Regions from separate parts of the Homo sapiens genome. Here region 1 is linked to region 2. Evidence: fine-mapped expression QTL. Tissue or cell type: whole blood. Region 2 holds a variant in brackets; the other region holds the start of a gene. All regions are shown on one strand. Distances are from middle to middle.

Region 1 (8,099 bases), 46 kb after region 2:
AGAATGGCTTTCCTATTAAAGTTCTGTGGGACATCGAGGTAGTGGAGAGCTGCAGGCCCGAGTGTCCTCACTGTAGTGTTAAGGCAGCTGAGGGGCAACCCCTAGAAGTATCAGATGTTCTAGGTCAGGGTCAGCAAGCTACAAGCTAAAACCTATGGACCACATCCAGCCACAGCCAGCTTAAATAGCTTGCAAGCTGTTTTGTTTTCTTTTCTTTTCTCTTTTTCTTTTTCTTTCTTTCTTTTTTTTTTTTTTTTTTGAGACAGTGTCTTGTTCTGTTGCCCATGTTGGAGTGGAGTGGCATGATCTCAGCTCACTGCAACCTCTGCTTCCCCGGGCTCAGGTAATCTGGTAATCCTCCCACCTCAGCCTCCTGAGTACCTGGGACTACAGGCATGCCACCACACCCGGCTAATTTTTGTATTTTTAGTAGAGACGGGGTTTTGCCATGGTGCCCAGGCTGGTCTCGAACTCCTGGGCTCAAGTGATCCACCCACCTCAGCTTCCCAAAGTGCTGGGATTACAGGTGTGAACCACTGCATCTAGCCTGAAGAAAATCCCCTTAAAAATATAAAAACTGGCTGTGCACTGTGGCTCGCATCTGTAATCCCAGCACTTTGGGATCTCTTGAGCCCAGGGGTTCAAGACCAGCCTGGGCAGCATGGCAAAACCCCATCTTTACTAAAAATAGAGAAATTAGCTGGGCGTGGTGCTGTGCGCTTGTAATCTCAGCTACTATAGAGGCTGAGGCAAGAGAATTGCTTGAATCTGGGAGGCAGAGGTTAGAGTAAGCTGAGATCACACTGCTGTACTCCAGCCTGAGCAACAGAGCGGAAACTCTTGTCTCAGAAAAAAAAAAAATAAAGGGAGTTAAAAAAAAAATGCATGAGACTGTATGTGGCTCACACACCCTAAAATATTTAACACTCTGGCTCTTTACAGAAAACTTTGCCAACCGTATTGACCTTTGGGTTAGAAAGGACTTACATTTTTGAGTCACCTGTTTCTGAAGAGCTGATAAAAGCCCTAGAATAATGTCCAAATGCGCATAGGTATAATTTTGCTTATCATTTCAAGGCATTAAGGACTAATTTTATTCAAAAAAAATTAGAAGAATTCAGCCATAGTCAATATTAATAAACAAGGAATGACCCAATTGTTTTTCATATAAGGGACAATTATTTTGTGTTTTTTAGTGAAACTACACAAGTCTTAAAACTGAGGTGCTTGACAAACTTCTGTCTTCCCAGGCCCTCTTCCTACTCCCAAAACTTCTGATTTAATAGGGCCAAGAGGGCCTGGGCATCAGTATTCTGAAGTCCTCTAGATGATTATTTCTTTCATCTCCATAGAGGATGATATTTCATAATATTTGAAGACTTAGAGGTTTATCCCAGCTCAGGAAACCATGGAACTTTCCTGCTGCAGAGCATCCCTCGTCCTACCTGTAGCTGATCCTGCTATAGAGATGGGGTATCAAGAGCAGAGGAATTGCAAGCAGGTGGGGATTGTGTGGGACCCATCCTGACCCCATTTTGCCTCTCTGCAGGAAGTTGGAGCTGCCACCTGTGTCTGGACCTGTTGAAAGAGAAAGCTTCCATCTACCAGAACCAGAACTCCTCTTGATGTGGCCACCCACCTGCTCCCCGACATATCTAAGGCTGTTTCTCTCCTCCACTTCATATTTCATACCCATCTTTCCCTTCTTCCTCCTCTCCTTCACAAATCCAGAGAACCTTGGGGTGGTTGTGCCAGCCTGCCTTTGGCAGCTGCAAGCTGAGGTGGCAGCTCTGACCACCTCTGGCCCCAGGCCCTCAGGGAGAAAGGAGCAACACACTGCCCCTAGGCGTGCGTGTGGCCCAGTTTCTCTCTGCTCTCCATTAAGTGCATTCACTCTGCTTGCCTTGGGCCCAGCCCCTGGTGATCACAGGGTTCAAACAGTGTCCTCCTAGAAAGAGTGGGAGAGCAGCTCACTTCTCTGTGTTCTGCCTCCCCTCTGGTCTCCAGAGTTTTCCTGTCCTCTAGAGGCAAGCCAGGCCAGGGAGCTGGGAGCGAGCAAGCTGAGGCCACGTCCACAAGGAGCTTTTCATGCCCCTGTGCCGCATAGCCTCACCTCTTTCCTCCAGAGTGGCTCTCTGCGGCCCTGTGTTCCTGCTACAGAGTGTTCTTTTCTGGAGTCAGGATGTTCTCGGTCACCCTCCTGGTTCTGCCCTGTCCCATTCCACCCCACCCCAGGGGGAACAGTAGCTTCACCTTGTTATTCCCATTGCTCTCCTGGCTCACTCTTACGGTCGGTCTCCAGTGACTGAAGCATTCCCCACCCTTGGAATTTCTCATCTTCTGCCTCCCTTCCTACTCCTTTTGGTTTTGTGGGGAGAGGGGAAGGATCAGGGGGCCAGGCCAGCAGCTCGGGGGCCACAAGGAGATGGATAATGTGCCTGTTTTTTAACACAACAAAAAAGCCTACCTCCAAAATCCCCTTTTTGTTCTTCCTGGACCTGGGCATTCAGCCTCCTGCTCTTAACTGAATTGGGAGCCTCTGCCACCTGCCCCGTGTATCCTGGCTCTCAGCTCATGGGGAAGCCACATAGACATCCCTTTCTTCCCTTGCACGCTCGCTAGCAGCTGGTAAGGTCTTCACACCCTGATTCCTCAAGTTTTCTGCTTAGTGGCACTGACATTAAGTAGTGGGGGGACAGTCCATGCCAGGACACCCTGGAGTAGCCTTCCCCCTTGGCCGTGGGCAGGCCCTAACTCACTGTCGCTTTGGAGTTGAGGTGTCTTTTTTTTTTCTTTCTTTAGTTCCTGTATTCTAAACATTAGTAAAAATAAATGTTTTTACACAGAGCCCTCTGCTGGATGGTTTATCTCCTGCCTTTCTCCATTAAGAAGGCCATTTCATCCTAAGATTTCCATGATGGTGGTTTTTTTTTTTAATGTTTTGAAATACAGCTTTTTTCCCCCCAAATTAAAATTTTTTTGTGGAACCCCAATATGTAAAGCGAATATAAAATTGGTTATTTTGTTTTGTTACATAAATTCAAGTTTATAACAATTCTTTGTTATAAAGAACAATGAAGCTGTTTTGATCAATACAAAATTTGGGTTAAAATCAACTTTAACATCTATTTTTATGTTTCAGTTGATTTGGAGAATTCTCCTAGTCTTGGATACATAGATGGAAGTGATGACAGGTTTATAACAGTTGACCTTGCAATCTCAGACATTTAAAACAGGACCAGAAGTTTATATAAATATAATTAATAAGCAAACTAATGACATCACCATGGGACACACACAAAAGTTCTTGCAGGAGCAGGGTCTGTGTGGCTTCAGTTGCCTGCAGCGCTCCCAGGCCAGAGCAAGTGCTCTAGGATCTGAACTGCCCGCAGTGCAGCCCTGCAGCCTTTCCCAGGGCACGTTGATGTGCACACAGTTTCCCTGAAGGCAAAGTGAACATGTGGAGAGCTTACGTGGCAGCGCGTATGTCTTCAGTGTGTGTTTTAGAAGTCCAACTGTTGTTTTTATGTTTTTAAAGGAAAGATTTGAATCAAGCAGTTATGGGCCCCCTGAAGTATCCTTTTTTCTAGAACATTCTGAAAGTCATCCTTGCCTATGGGAAGCCTAGGCCGGCCTGCACTGTTATGTTCAATAAATAAGCAGGGTGCTCTGGGCTGGGGATTGTGTGAGGAGCAGAGCGCAGCCCGTCCTCATGCTTTTCCACTGAAGTAGGCCAGGCAGAGAGGGAGTACAGCAATGGATGCGCTTTGGCAGCTGAGTAGTCCGAGAGCCAGAAAAGAAATGTGGAAAATAAGAACGCTGTAGCAGGCCTAGGTGAGGAAATTTAGGAAGGGTTTGCGGGAGGTAGGATTTGAGATGGGTCTTGGAGAGTTGGACAGTGTCAGCCGGTAGGACGGGGGTGCGGACGGAAGCCTGTGAGGAAGGCAGAGGATGCGGAGCTGTGAGCGGAGGGAGCAGCGAGGCTGGAGAGCAGCTGGGCTGCGGGTCAAGACGTCTGCGTTTAATTCGGGACTGAAGGTTAGCAGGGAAGGGAACGATGCCAGATCTTGAGTTTAAGAACTTGAATCTTGTAAAGTACCAAATCTAATAAAATACTCGTCCTAAATCATTACTGGCCCAAGCATGCAGTGTTTCCGTGGCCGACAGACTCGAGCCAGCGCTGTCCATGGTAACCAGCTTTTGTGTGGCTTAAAGCTTGCATCCATTTTCTCCTTTCATCGTTTTCCCAAAACAATTCCGTGAGGGCTGTTAGCCCTGCTTGGTAGACGAAGAAGCCGATGCGGTCTAGGGTCACGGCCAGGGAGGCTTTGGGACGCCAAGTCAGCTCGGCGGTCACCACACCACCTACAGGGCTCGTCGGGCCCTCGGGGTCGGCGGCTGCTGGAGGCGCCCAGGGGAGTCCTGCTGGTTCCTGGCTCCGCCTCCCGCCCCTCCGCGCTAGAAGCCCCGCCCCCAGAGGGGCTCGACGAACCGCCACTTCCGCAACGTCCAATGAAACTTAGCCGGGGGAGGGACGGGGCGCCACTGAGGACCAATCTGCTTGGGCCGGGGCGGGGCTGCGGCGGGTGGGTGCAGAGGGGCCGCACCGCGGACTTCGCAGCCGGGAGAGAGCCCGGCGCGGGCGGCGCGCACGGGACTCTGCTGTGCGCGCGCCCGCCCGCCCGCCGTCCGCGCAGGCCCTCGGTCCGCTCTGCCCTCGGGGTCGTGGCGCCCATCCCTCCCCTGTTCTGCTGTCGCCGCCCGGACAGGGGCTCGGGAGCCGGGCTGGGGGCAGGGGCTGGAGCCGCGGGACCAGCGCCTGAGGTGGGTGCGGAGCGGGAGGCCGGGCGGGCGGGCGCCTGGGGCCGCCCCGCCGACATACTCCGGGTCGAGGGGGAGTGACCGGCCAGGGCACGGAGTCCGGCTGCCGGCCTGCCTGGGTCCGGGCGTTCGTTCCCGCGCCCTGGGACCCTCCCAGGCCACCACCCTCCCCGCGGGGACACCCCGCCCCTCCGCTGCCCGCAGCCTCCTCAGGCCTCCCGCCCTTTGTCGCTCGTGCACCTGCGCCCTCGGCCCTGCCCTCTCGCTCCCCTCAGGACTGACCGTCGCCTAGCCTCCCTCTCAGGACCCGGCACCAAATTAGCCTCGCTCCTTCAGACACCCTCTGTCCCCTTTGTCGTCTGTACACCTGTCACCTCAACTCTGTGTGCATCCACCCACCTCCCACCCCCCAGCGGCGTCATCTGAATCCAGCCCAAGCCGCCTCCCACTCCCTCCCGGGGGCTCCTCCCCCGCAGCCCCGTAGCCCCACACCTGCCCCCTCGGCCCCAGTCCCAGGCCCTCCCCCGTCCGTATGCCTTTGTTATCTCTGCAGCTGTCCCCTGCACTTTTCATCCTTCTTCCCGAGTGAGGCCAGACCCCAGCCCAGACTCCCCTGTCCTTCTGAGTGGAGAGACGCCCCCTCCCCAGCTCTGCCCTGGCATCCTGGGGACGGGGCCAGCCGGCTTCCACTCGGCCTAGCCACTTCCTCTTTCAGCGGGTCCAGTCTCACCCGGTGCCTGCGCAAGTCCTCATCTAATCTCTTTTCCCTCCTGCGCTCCTTTCCTAGCTCTTCCGGCCTCAGATTACTCTACCCGCTCAATCTTTCCTCCCCGCACAGGTGCCCCGGAGAGGCCATGGAGCTGAGCAGCAAGAAGAAGCTTCACGCCCTGTCCCTGGCCGAGAAGATCCAGGTGCTGGAACTCCTGGATGAGTCCAAGATGTCCCAGTCGGAGGTGGCCCGGCGCTTCCAGGTTTCCCAGCCCCAGATCTCGCGCATCTGCAAGAATAAGGAGAAGCTGCTGGCGGACTGGTGCAGCGGCACAGCCAACCGAGAGCGCAAGCGCAAGCGGGAGTCCAAGTACAGCGGGATCGACGAGGCTCTGCTCTGCTGGTACCACATTGCCCGGGCCAAGGCCTGGGACGTGACGGGGCCCATGCTGCTCCACAAAGCCAAGGAGCTGGCCGATATCATGGGCCAGGACTTCGTGCCCAGCATCGGCTGGCTGGTCCGCTGGAAACGCCGAAACAACGTCGGCTTTGGGGCCCGCCATGTTCTTGCGCCTTCATTCCCCCCTGAGCCACCTCCCCCGGGGCTCACATCCCAGGCTCAGCTGCCTCTTTCCCTAAAAGACTTCTCTCCAGAGGACGTGTTTGGCTGTGCTGAATTGCCCTTGCTGTATCGGGCAGTGCCCGGCAGCTTTGGTGCATGTGATCAAGTACAGGTGCTGCTGTGTGCCAACAGCAGGGGCACCGAGAAGCGGCGGGTACTGCTGGGTGGGCTCCAGGCTGCCCCGAGATGCTTCTTTGGGATCCGCAGTGAGGCTCTGCCTGCCTCCTACCACCCGGACCTGGGCATCCCCTGGTTAGAGTGGTTGGCACAGTTTGACCGGGACATGGGACAGCAGGGCCGACAGGTGGCTTTGCTGCTGGCTGCCCGAGTGGTGGAGGAGCTGGCAGGCCTGCCTGGGCTCTACCACGTGAAGCTCTTGCCTCTGGCCGCCTCTAGCACCACGCCTCCCCTGCCCAGCTCAGTGGTCCGGGCCTTTAAGGCCCATTACCGACACCGGCTGTTGGGCAAACTGGCTGCCATCCAAAGCGAGAGGGATGGCACCTCGCTGGCCGAGGCCGGGGCAGGCATCACCGTGCTGGACGCCCTGCACGTGGCGTCTGCCGCCTGGGCCAAGGTGCCTCCTCAGCTCATTTTCAGCAGCTTCATTCAAGAAGGGCTGGCTCCCGGCAAAACGCCCCCGTCCTCGCACAAAACCTCTGAGATGCCACCAGTCCCCGGCGGGCTGAGCCTGGAGGAGTTTTCCCGCTTTGTGGACCTGGAGGGTGAGGAGCCAAGGTCTGGAGTATGTAAGGAGGAGATAGGCACTGAAGACGAGAAGGGGGACAGAGAGGGTGCCTTTGAGCCCCTGCCCACCAAAGCTGATGCCCTCCGGGCCCTGGGCACCTTGAGGAGGTGGTTTGAATGCAACAGCACTTCTCCTGAGCTATTCGAAAAATTCTACGACTGTGAGGAGGAGGTGGAGCGGCTTTGCTGCCTATGAAGGCGCCTTCACTGCTTGCCAGAGCCCCTTCCTCTCTTGTTTCCCATGGAAACGGCCTCTTCAGAAGGCAGATCGGGCTGTCTCTTTCCTGTGGAAATAGAACTGTCGTAAAGGTGTAGAAGGGAGAGAAGTTGGGACACCAAGTCTGAGCTTGGAGTGGCAGTCGTCCAAACCCCAGGAAGAGAGCTCTAAAGATGGGGCTTCGGGGGTAGGAATCCAGGATGCTTAGTTTCTAGACCCTGCTTGAAAGTTCTAGAGCCTTTGAAAGGGAGTTAGTCTAGAGGCAGCCACTTAGAAAGGTGGAATTTGGGCTTTTTGGACAGACTGCTTCCTTGAACTTTGTGTTAAAAACAGTTCTGCTTCTGAAAATAAAGTTTTTAATCAGAAAAGAGGCCAGGGTGTTATTTTCATGGGAGAAGGGTAAACATTTTCCATTCAGATTTGGAAAATTAATTGCTGATGGTCACTGCGGTGCAGCTGTCTGTCCATGACCAGTAGGGATCCTCCTTTTCCAGATATTCAGCAGCAAGGACTCTCAGGGTGTGGGCACTGCTTGTGGGCTACCCTCCTGAGAGGGAAGCTCCAGGACAGACAGATCCCAGCTACTGCCCCAGATAAGCTGCAGCTCCAATAGTTTCGCTCTCAGATTGTGTGTGTTTGGGGTTGGGCAGGCTACGGACATGTCAGGGAAACAGAAAGGAGCCGGAATTGGAATGGAATAGTCATTCATTCTTTCTTTTTTTTTTTTCATTTGCTTATTTCACAACATCACTTCAGCAAGACCTCCTATGTGAACAAGGTTGCAAAGATGATGTCTCTTCTGGACAGAACCTTGCAGCCAATGACAGTGGAGTGTGATTAAGGCTGTGATAACGGCTGTGCAAAGTGCCTGGCCCCATAGAGCTAGGGAGACTCCAGGGGGAGGTGAGCTTTGAGCTGCAGTTTGAAGGGCGTCCCAGGCCAAGGGACAGCGTGTGCAGAGTCTGATTGGAGTGAAGGAGCACAGTG
Region 2 (8,099 bases):
GGACAGCACAACACCTGCTAAGGGCCCTGCAGGTTGGGGGTCTCTCCTCGGCAGCGGGATGCAGAAATGAATGAGTGGACAGAATCTCTGCTGCCACCCAGAGCTGCCACTCCAGCACAGAAACCTGTAAACAGTGGACACTGCAGAGCATCAGATGGAGTCAAGTGTGTCAGATGGAGAAAACCAGAGCAGGCCAAGGGCAGAGGTGCCTGGAGTTGTGGTGGGTGCTGCACAGAGGAGGGGTCACCAGCTCCCAACTTTTATTTCCTAAACATGTGTCTCCCATACACCCTCTTCTTGCTATCCCCGGCATCCTACCATCCACCCATCCGTCCACCCATCCATTTACCTAACCATCCATTCTTCCATCCATCCGTCCATCCATTCATCTACCCACCCACCCATCTATCTATCCATCCACGTAACCATCCATCCTTTCTTCCATCCATCCATCCTTCCATCCACCCACCCACCCACTCATCCATCCATCCATAGACTTAACCATCCATCCATTCATCCATCCACCCACCCATGAACTTAACCATCCATCTTTTCATCCATCCATCAACCCACCCATCAACCCACCCATCCACCCAACCATCCACCCACCCACCCATCCATCCACTCATCCATATTCACTGGGTGCCTACCACATGGCACACACTCTGGGGGACTGGCTATGATCCAATGGAAAATGGACATGAACCAAATGACAACGCCACGGAGAGGTCCATGGTCCAGAGTTTCCCACGGTATCACAAGGTGACCCAACATCAATGGGGGTCCAGAAAGCTTCCCTGAGGGGAGACATCACAGCTGAGAGCCACGGGAGGCATGGGGGTGGCCAGGTGAGGTGGAGGGAGCAAATCGCAGGGCTCATGGAGGAGCATGTGCAGGGACCTAGCCCTGGAGGCTGGGCACCGCCGACAGCTGACAGGCACATGTTCAGGGCAGCAGGCATGGAGCACTGGCTGGAGGCTGAAGAGGCTAGCAGGGGCCCTGCTGCAGGTTTGTGACCATGGCAGCACACGAACAGGGCACGTGGCAGTCAGAGTGGTGTTTTTGTCTATCACCATGTGGTGTGGAGAATAGGCAGGCAGCACATCATCCTGGCCCCCAAAACCCTTGCGGGCTCCATTCTCCCCCCACCCCCACCCTGTCACCCAAGTTGTAAGCCTGGACTGGGCCTGACTCCCCCTTCTTCCTCCATGGCCCTCCATGGGGGCTAACCTATCACCTAATCTCAGCCTTTCAACTTCATCATCTCCATCTCCAGCTCTCACACCACTCTTCAGGACCAAATTTTCTCTCCCTTCTACGCTAACTGTCCCCAGAAGTGGCCTCTGCCTCTAGTCTGGCCTCCCTCCAGGCCCCCCTCTCCAAAGCTGCCCGGCACCACCTCTGCAGAAATTCTGCAGTTCATTCACCAAAAAGAAACACATGTGGCTCTTAAGCAAATGAAAAGGTGACCAGCCTCACGCATCGTAAGAGAAACGCAAACTCTAACTACACCCAAATTCCTTTGTTTTGTTTAGTTTTTGCCTTTCAGATGGACAAAAATCAAAATAGGTGGAAACCAGGGGCTGGTGAGCCTGAGGAGAAACAGCCCTGTTGACTGTGTGGGGGCCTGGTACCTGGCACAGTCTCCAAGAAGGACAAGCTGACAGAGCTGACAAAATGACCACTGCAAGCTGGGCACGGTGGTGCGTGCCTGTAGTCCCAGCCACGCAGGAGGCCAAGGCGGGAGGATGGCTTAAGCCCAGGAGGTCGAGGCTGCAGTCAGCTATGATGACACCATTGTACATTGTACTCCAGCCTGGGTGACAGAGCAGGACCCTGTCTCTAAAATAACAATAATAAGACACCACTGCATGTATCTTTTGCCCCCCAGTCCTCCCAAGTCCCTTCTGGGAATGTATTCCGCAGCAGCGCTCGTGCATGTGTGAAAGGGCTTTTGTACAGATGACTCACTGCGGCACGGCCTGTCTTGAGAAAGGGCTGGAAGCAACCTGAAGGTCCCTCTGCCAAGAAGTGCATCTGTAAATTACCATACATCCTTGTGCTGGAATACCGTGCAGCTGTGAAAATGAGGACACACTCTATGTATTGATGTAGAGTGGTCTCCAAAATATAACGTTAACTGGAAAACGCAAGGTGTCAAACAGCATGAACAGCAGAGGCTCAATGAAAGGGCTTCTCACAGTCCCGAGCAGGACGGCCCTCCGCCAGCTACCACCAGGGCCTGCAGTACTTTGGAACTCTACTTGTCTAAATATTGACATTTGTGTTAAAAAAAAAAAAAATGAGAGGGGCCCTGCTCGTTCATGCAAGAATATCCCTAGAAGTGTTTACAAGAAACTGATAACACCAGTTGGCTATAGCAGAATGGAGAACTGTCCCTGGGGGACAGGGATGAGACTTCTTGCCTCTTAGGACTTCAGAATTTCTTTTTCTTTCTTTCTTTTTTTTTTCTTTTTGAGATGGAGTTTCACTCTGTCGCTCAGGCACCCAGTACAGTGGTGTGATCTTGGCTCACCACAACCTTCGCCTCCCAGGTTCAAGCGACTCTCCTGCCTCAGCCTCCTGAGTAGCTGGGATTACAGGCACCCACCACCATGCCTGGCTAATTTCTGTATTTTTAGGAGAGACGAGGTTTTGCCATGTGGGCCAGGCTGGTCTCGAACTCCCGACCTCAGGTGATCCGCACCCCACCCCCTACCTTGGCCTCCCAAACTGTTGGGATTACAGGTGTGAGCCACCATATCCAGCCAACTTCTGAATTCTGAATCACATGAAAGCATTACCTCAGCCAGGCGCTTTGGCTCACCCTTATAACCCCAGCACTTTGGGAGGCCGAGGCAGATGAATTGCTTGAGCCCAGGAGTTCAAGACCAGCCTGGACAACATGGCGAAAACCCGTCTCTACAAAAAATACAAAGATTAGCAAATGGCATGTGCCTGTGGTCACAGCTACTCAGGAGGATTGCTTGGGCCCAGGAAGTTGAGGCTGCAGTGAGCAGTGATCACGCCGCTGCATTCCAGCGATACAGCAAGACCCTATCTCAAAGAAAGAAAAAGAAAAGAAAGAGCATTACCTAATCAAAAAGTAATTATTATTATTATTATTATTATTTTATTATTTTGAGACAGAGTCTCACTCTGTCGCCTAGGCTGGAGTGCAGTGGCACAATCTTGGCTCACTGCAACCTCCGCCTCCCAGGCTCAAGTGATTCTCCTGCCTCAGCCTCCTGAGTAGCTGCGACTACAGGCACGTGCCACCACGCCTCGCTAATTTTTGTATTTTTAGTAGAGACGGGTTTTCACCATGTTCCCCAGGCTGGTCTCGAACTCCTAACCTCAGCTGATCCACCCGCCTTGGCCTCCCAAAGTGCTGGGATTACAGGCGTGAGCCACCGCACCCGGCCTCAAAAAGTAATTTAAATGAAAGAAAATGCAGTTCTGATGGTGTTGTACCTCTACACACAGATCATCGTTGCCTTTCCCACAGCACTCGGCAACTCTCATGAGTGATCACCTGCCTTTAGCTATTCTGCAATGGGCCCTTCATTCTCAGTGGCAAGTGACAGACCCAACCCTAACTGTATTAAGCCAAAACTGGAATTTGTTGGCTCGTAGAATAGAAACTGCTTCAGGCATGACTGGATCCAGGAGCACAGGCAATGTCATTGAGATTCATTCTCTTGGTGCTGTTTTCTTCTATGTTGGCCTTATTCTTAGGCAGGCTCCCCCCTTAGGGTGGCAGAGCTGGCCACCAGCAGCTCTGGGCTGGCATCTTGACATTTGTGACCCTAACAGTCCCATCAAGTTCCTGGGCTGATGCTCTCTGATGTCATATGCTGGAGCCATTCCCATGACTCAGACTGGCTAGGCACAGGACTCAAACCCACTTTTAGAGCTTGAGGGTTGGGGGCCAGTCACACTGGAGACTAGAAAACTGAGGGACAGTCACCAGAGTGAGAGATGGATGCTGGGCAGGGAAAACAGTGCTTACCCACTACCCTCTTGGCCTGTCCCCTCTCCTATGCCATGGGCAACTGGACCTCTCTTGTTTTCTGCTCATACCATGACTTTACTTGCAATCCTCCTGGCCTTTGCCTTGCCAGGCCTCTGCCTGCTTCCCCTGGAATGTCCTTCCCTTTCTGTGCCTGGCAAACTCCTATTCATCCATTTATGCCCTGTTCACATATCACCTTCTCCTTGAAGCCCTTCTCACTCTCCCATCTGCTTTCCCACCCATAGCAGACAGATCTCATGGCTGTTCTCTTTGGTTTTTCATTCAATTCCCAGTCATTGGCTGAACCCCTCCGTGCTGGCCCGGGAGGGATAAAGGGCAGAATCAATTATTTGTTTCTCACGCAGGTTATCTGTTCCCTGAGGGCTGGGTCCAGCTTTGGCCACCTGTGTCTTCTCTAGTCCAGCATAGCCCTAGGCACAAGAGAGATGCAAGCCTAGGTTTTCAGAATGAGGAATGACAGGATACCTGGAAGGCACAGAAAGTGTGGAAGACAGCCTCTGCTGACTCCACAATTTACTCCCTACGACAAAATGACAGCCTTGGGGCTGGGACGCTCCCAGAGGGCTCTGGGAGGAAGTGCTTGGGCTGGTCCCTGCTAGGACAAGGCTGTCACCACTCTGGAAACCCCCATA[G/A]CCCTGGGCCCGAGGCCAAAATCCAGATGCGAAGGGAAGTGCCCCCAGCAAGGCCCTGCCACCCAACTCCCAAGGAGGGGTCCCAGGCAGAGGCAGCAGCTGGAGCCAACTCCGAGGGTGACCTCTCATCTCAAATCCCAGCCTCCAGTGGGTCACAGTTCTCTGAAGTGGGGTGAAGAGCGAGGAGGGCAGGGCTGGAGTTGGCAGGAGTCCAGGGGAGGAAGGAAGCAAGAAACAAGGAAAAAATCCAACCCAGGTCTGGGGTTGGCTCAGGCCACAGGGCCCTGCAGGCTGAGCTTAGGCTGGGACGTCAGAAGCTTCCAGAGGGTGGCTGAGCACCTTCTCAGCTCCCTGCCACCCTGCATCCCAGCAGAGGGACTGGGGCACCTCCAGAGACCCCTGTCACTTCTTAGCACCTCCCCTAGATGCACCCCCAAGATGCGCCTCCCCTAGATGCCACTCTTCCCTGTGACTCTGCTCCCAGACCCCAAGTCCCTGTCATCTCACCTGCCCCCCAGGGTCCTGGGTTCCAGGTTTCGTGCCCATGGAGAGCTGGCTTCAGCCTCCCTGGGGGTAGGAGGGAGCTTCCCTGCTGGTCTCTCCAATCTGGCCAGTGTTGCCGGAGGGGGCTTCCAACTCCATCCCCCAGGTCCCATGGGGGTGCTATGGCCGCTGGTGATGGCAATTTCCAGGAAGGAGAGGCTGGGAGGGGAAGGAAGGGCTGAGTCAGTCCCTGTGTAGTGATCACAGTCGGGGAGGTGGCTGTGGGGTTGGTTGGGGAGCCTATTGGGCCCATCTCAGGACAAGGGAGAGGCTCCAGGCTGAGGAGACAGAAGCCAAATACCCTGCTCTGGGTGTTTCTCCATCGTGGCCTGCTCTGCCCCTCCCAAATGCCCTTTTGTTTTTTTTTTAATTTTAATTTTTATTTTCTTAGACGGAGTCGCGCACTGTCGCCCAAGCTGGAGGGCAGTGGCGTGATCTCAGCTCACTGCAAGCTCCGCCTCCTGGGTTCATGCCATTCTCCTGCCTCAGCCTCCCAAGTAGCTGGGACTACAGGCACCCGCCACCATGCCAGGCTAATTTTTTGTATTTTTAGTAGAGACGGGGTTTCACCGTGTTAGCCAGGATGATCTCAATCTCCTCACCTCGTGATCGGCCTGCCTCAGCCTCCCAAGGTGCTGGGATTATAGGCGTGAGCCACCGCGCCCGGCCTTTTTTTTTTTTTTTTGAGATGGAGTCTTGCTGTGTCACCCAGGCTAGAGTGCAGTGGTACAGTCTTGGTCACTGCAACCCCTGCCTCCCAGGCTCAAGCAATTCTTCTGCCTCAGTCTCCCAAGTAGCTGGGACTACAGGCGTGTGCCACCACGCCTGGCTAATTTTTGTATTTTTAGTAGAGACGGGGTTTCACCATGTTGACCAGGCTGGTCTCGAACTCCTGACCTCAGTTGATCCGCCCACCTCAGCCTCCCAAAGTGCTGGGATGACAGGTGTGAGCCACCACATCCAGCCCCAGATGCCCTTTTGGATCCTGCCCCTGAGGTAGCAGGGTGTCCAGGAGCCCTTCTGTCCAGGACAGTCCAGGCCCTGGCTGAGGCATCAGACCCTAGGGTCCAGGCTGGGGGATGCAGCGCTTGGCCTGAGTGTCTTGGGTCAAAATGCAGGCCACGCTTCCCCGTGGCTCAGGCTATTCCAGCCTCCCTACCCACACCCCAGGCCCCTACATATAGCCTGAGAACTTGCACAAAAAAGCCAAGTTTAGTAAATGAAATCCTGTTTTATACATGGCCTTATGAATGGCAGGGCTCCCATGGCGATGCTGGGTGTGCACACAAAGATCCTGTCCATTCAGCAGAACCTCCTCAGGGATCCCCTGGGCCCCAGCCAAGTGACAACCACATCTGTGAATGGGGAGAAGGAAGCGCCCTCCCTGCATGCTTGCACAGCGCAGAACCCAGGGCCAGGCGCCGATCACTCCTGCGATGTGGACTTGGTCGGGCCCCCTGCTCTGAATGACAGCAGGAGTGGATTGAGCGGCAAGGGGACTGGCACTGGGCGGAACACGTCACATCCAGGTGGGTTGAAAACAGTCCCCAGAGTGCAGATAGCATTTCTAGTCCTGGTTGGAAGGCTCAGGGAGGAAAGCAGGAGCTTGGACCAGGTTTGCGGGCTCTGCTGCTCTCTATCCCTACCCGAGGGACCCCTAATCACCCACCCCCCACAGAACTTCTTCAAAGAGCTCCGGGGTTGGTCCCCAGCTGTGTGTGGCCTTGGGTGAGAGGCTTTGTTTCTCCATCTTCCATCCCTGTAACTCTGTTTTGTCCCCAGCTCTGAATGGAGTGCCTGACCCTTCCCTGACCGCTACCCCCCAATGGAGGACTCTCAGCAGATGGGCAGGGGATGAGGGCTTGGCCTGAGCCTCATTCCCGCAGGCTTAGGTGGCTTCATCATTACAGCCATTCCGATCAAGCAGCACAGCCAGCTGGCCAGGCCCCAAAGCTCTTGTCTAATGTGTCCGTGAAACAATGCCACCTGAGGGGCTGCGTATTCCCATGAACAAAATACATGCATGTCCATCCCTTATCTGGTTTGGGACTTGCCTGACCTGATGCTACTACCCCATATTATAGGCAAGGAGACTCTGGAAGGGAAGGTCCTTTGCCTGTGGCCACAGAGCAAAGCAGCAGCAGAGACAGCTCAGAATCTGACTGATGGCTCAGAGGCCGGGGCTCAAGGCACTCAGCTGCCCCTCCTCTCTGAGAGCTGTGTCCTGGGGATGGGCAGGAATGATGCCTGTGGGGTTAGAAGCCTGAGAGAAGGAGGGGCCAGAGCCCACATGCCTTGCCACTTCTAGGCTCAGCAAATCACTGTCGGTGCCCTGAGCTTTAGTTCCCATCTGTAAAATGGGGATCGTGATTCAGGCTCTGGCCACGTCACTAGGCACCCCCAGGAGGATGTAAAGAATTCAGGAACATGAAGCAATGGGTAAAGGGCACAGGGCGGCCTGGCAAAGTCCCATGGCAAGAATGGGGAGAGGCACACCCTTTACTCACCCCTACCACAGCTTGGCCCAGGGCCATCATTGCCACTTACTCAATGGTCCAGGCCTGTTTTCCTCCAAGCTGCCAGGCCATTCCTGGCAGAATCCACCTGACCAATACTCCCTGCAGAGTTGAGGGCACACTCAAGATTAAAACCTGAACCTCCTTGGATTCGTTTTCTATCACTGCTACAACAAATTATCATGGAATAGGTGGCTTAAAACAACAGAAATTCGTGATCTTACAGTTCTATAGGTTAGAAGGTCAACATGGGGCTGAGCGAGGTGGCTCATGCCTATAATCCCAGCACTTTGGGAGGCCAAGGTGGGTGGATCACTTGAGGTCAGGAGTTTGAGAGCAGCCTGGCCAACATGGTGAAACCCTATCTATACT

Evidence for each region. PIP is the estimated chance that this variant, and not a neighbour inherited with it, causes the effect.
Region 1: it holds the start of TIGD3, and the variant in region 2 is fine-mapped to the expression of TIGD3 in whole blood (TOPMed, PIP above 0.99).

The regions. Positions count from the first base shown.
Region 1 is chr11:65,350,134-65,358,232 of GRCh38, forward strand. It overlaps TIGD3 (tigger transposable element derived 3), which reads left to right and starts at 4,618. Exons shown (of 2, transcript NM_145719.3): 1 at 4,618-4,824; 2 at 5,660-7,480. The coding sequence starts at 5,676. The coding sequence ends at 7,091. DPF2 (double PHD fingers 2) reads left to right here. Exons shown (of 11, transcript NM_006268.5): 11 at 1,550-4,129. The coding sequence ends at 1,626. RefSeq lists silencers at 4,346-4,405, 4,496-4,815, 4,836-4,895, 4,906-5,075, 5,136-5,325.
Region 2 is chr11:65,303,838-65,311,936 of GRCh38, forward strand. LOC105369344 (a long non-coding RNA gene) reads right to left here. Exons shown (of 3, transcript XR_007062727.1): 2 at 5,176-5,370. It also overlaps a transcript of POLA2 not described here. Among named protein-coding and RNA genes, the nearest start is that of CDC42EP2, 7.0 kb to the right of the region's middle. RefSeq lists enhancers at 6,131-6,738, 6,739-7,346. The variant G/A (reference allele first, on the strand shown) is at 4,669.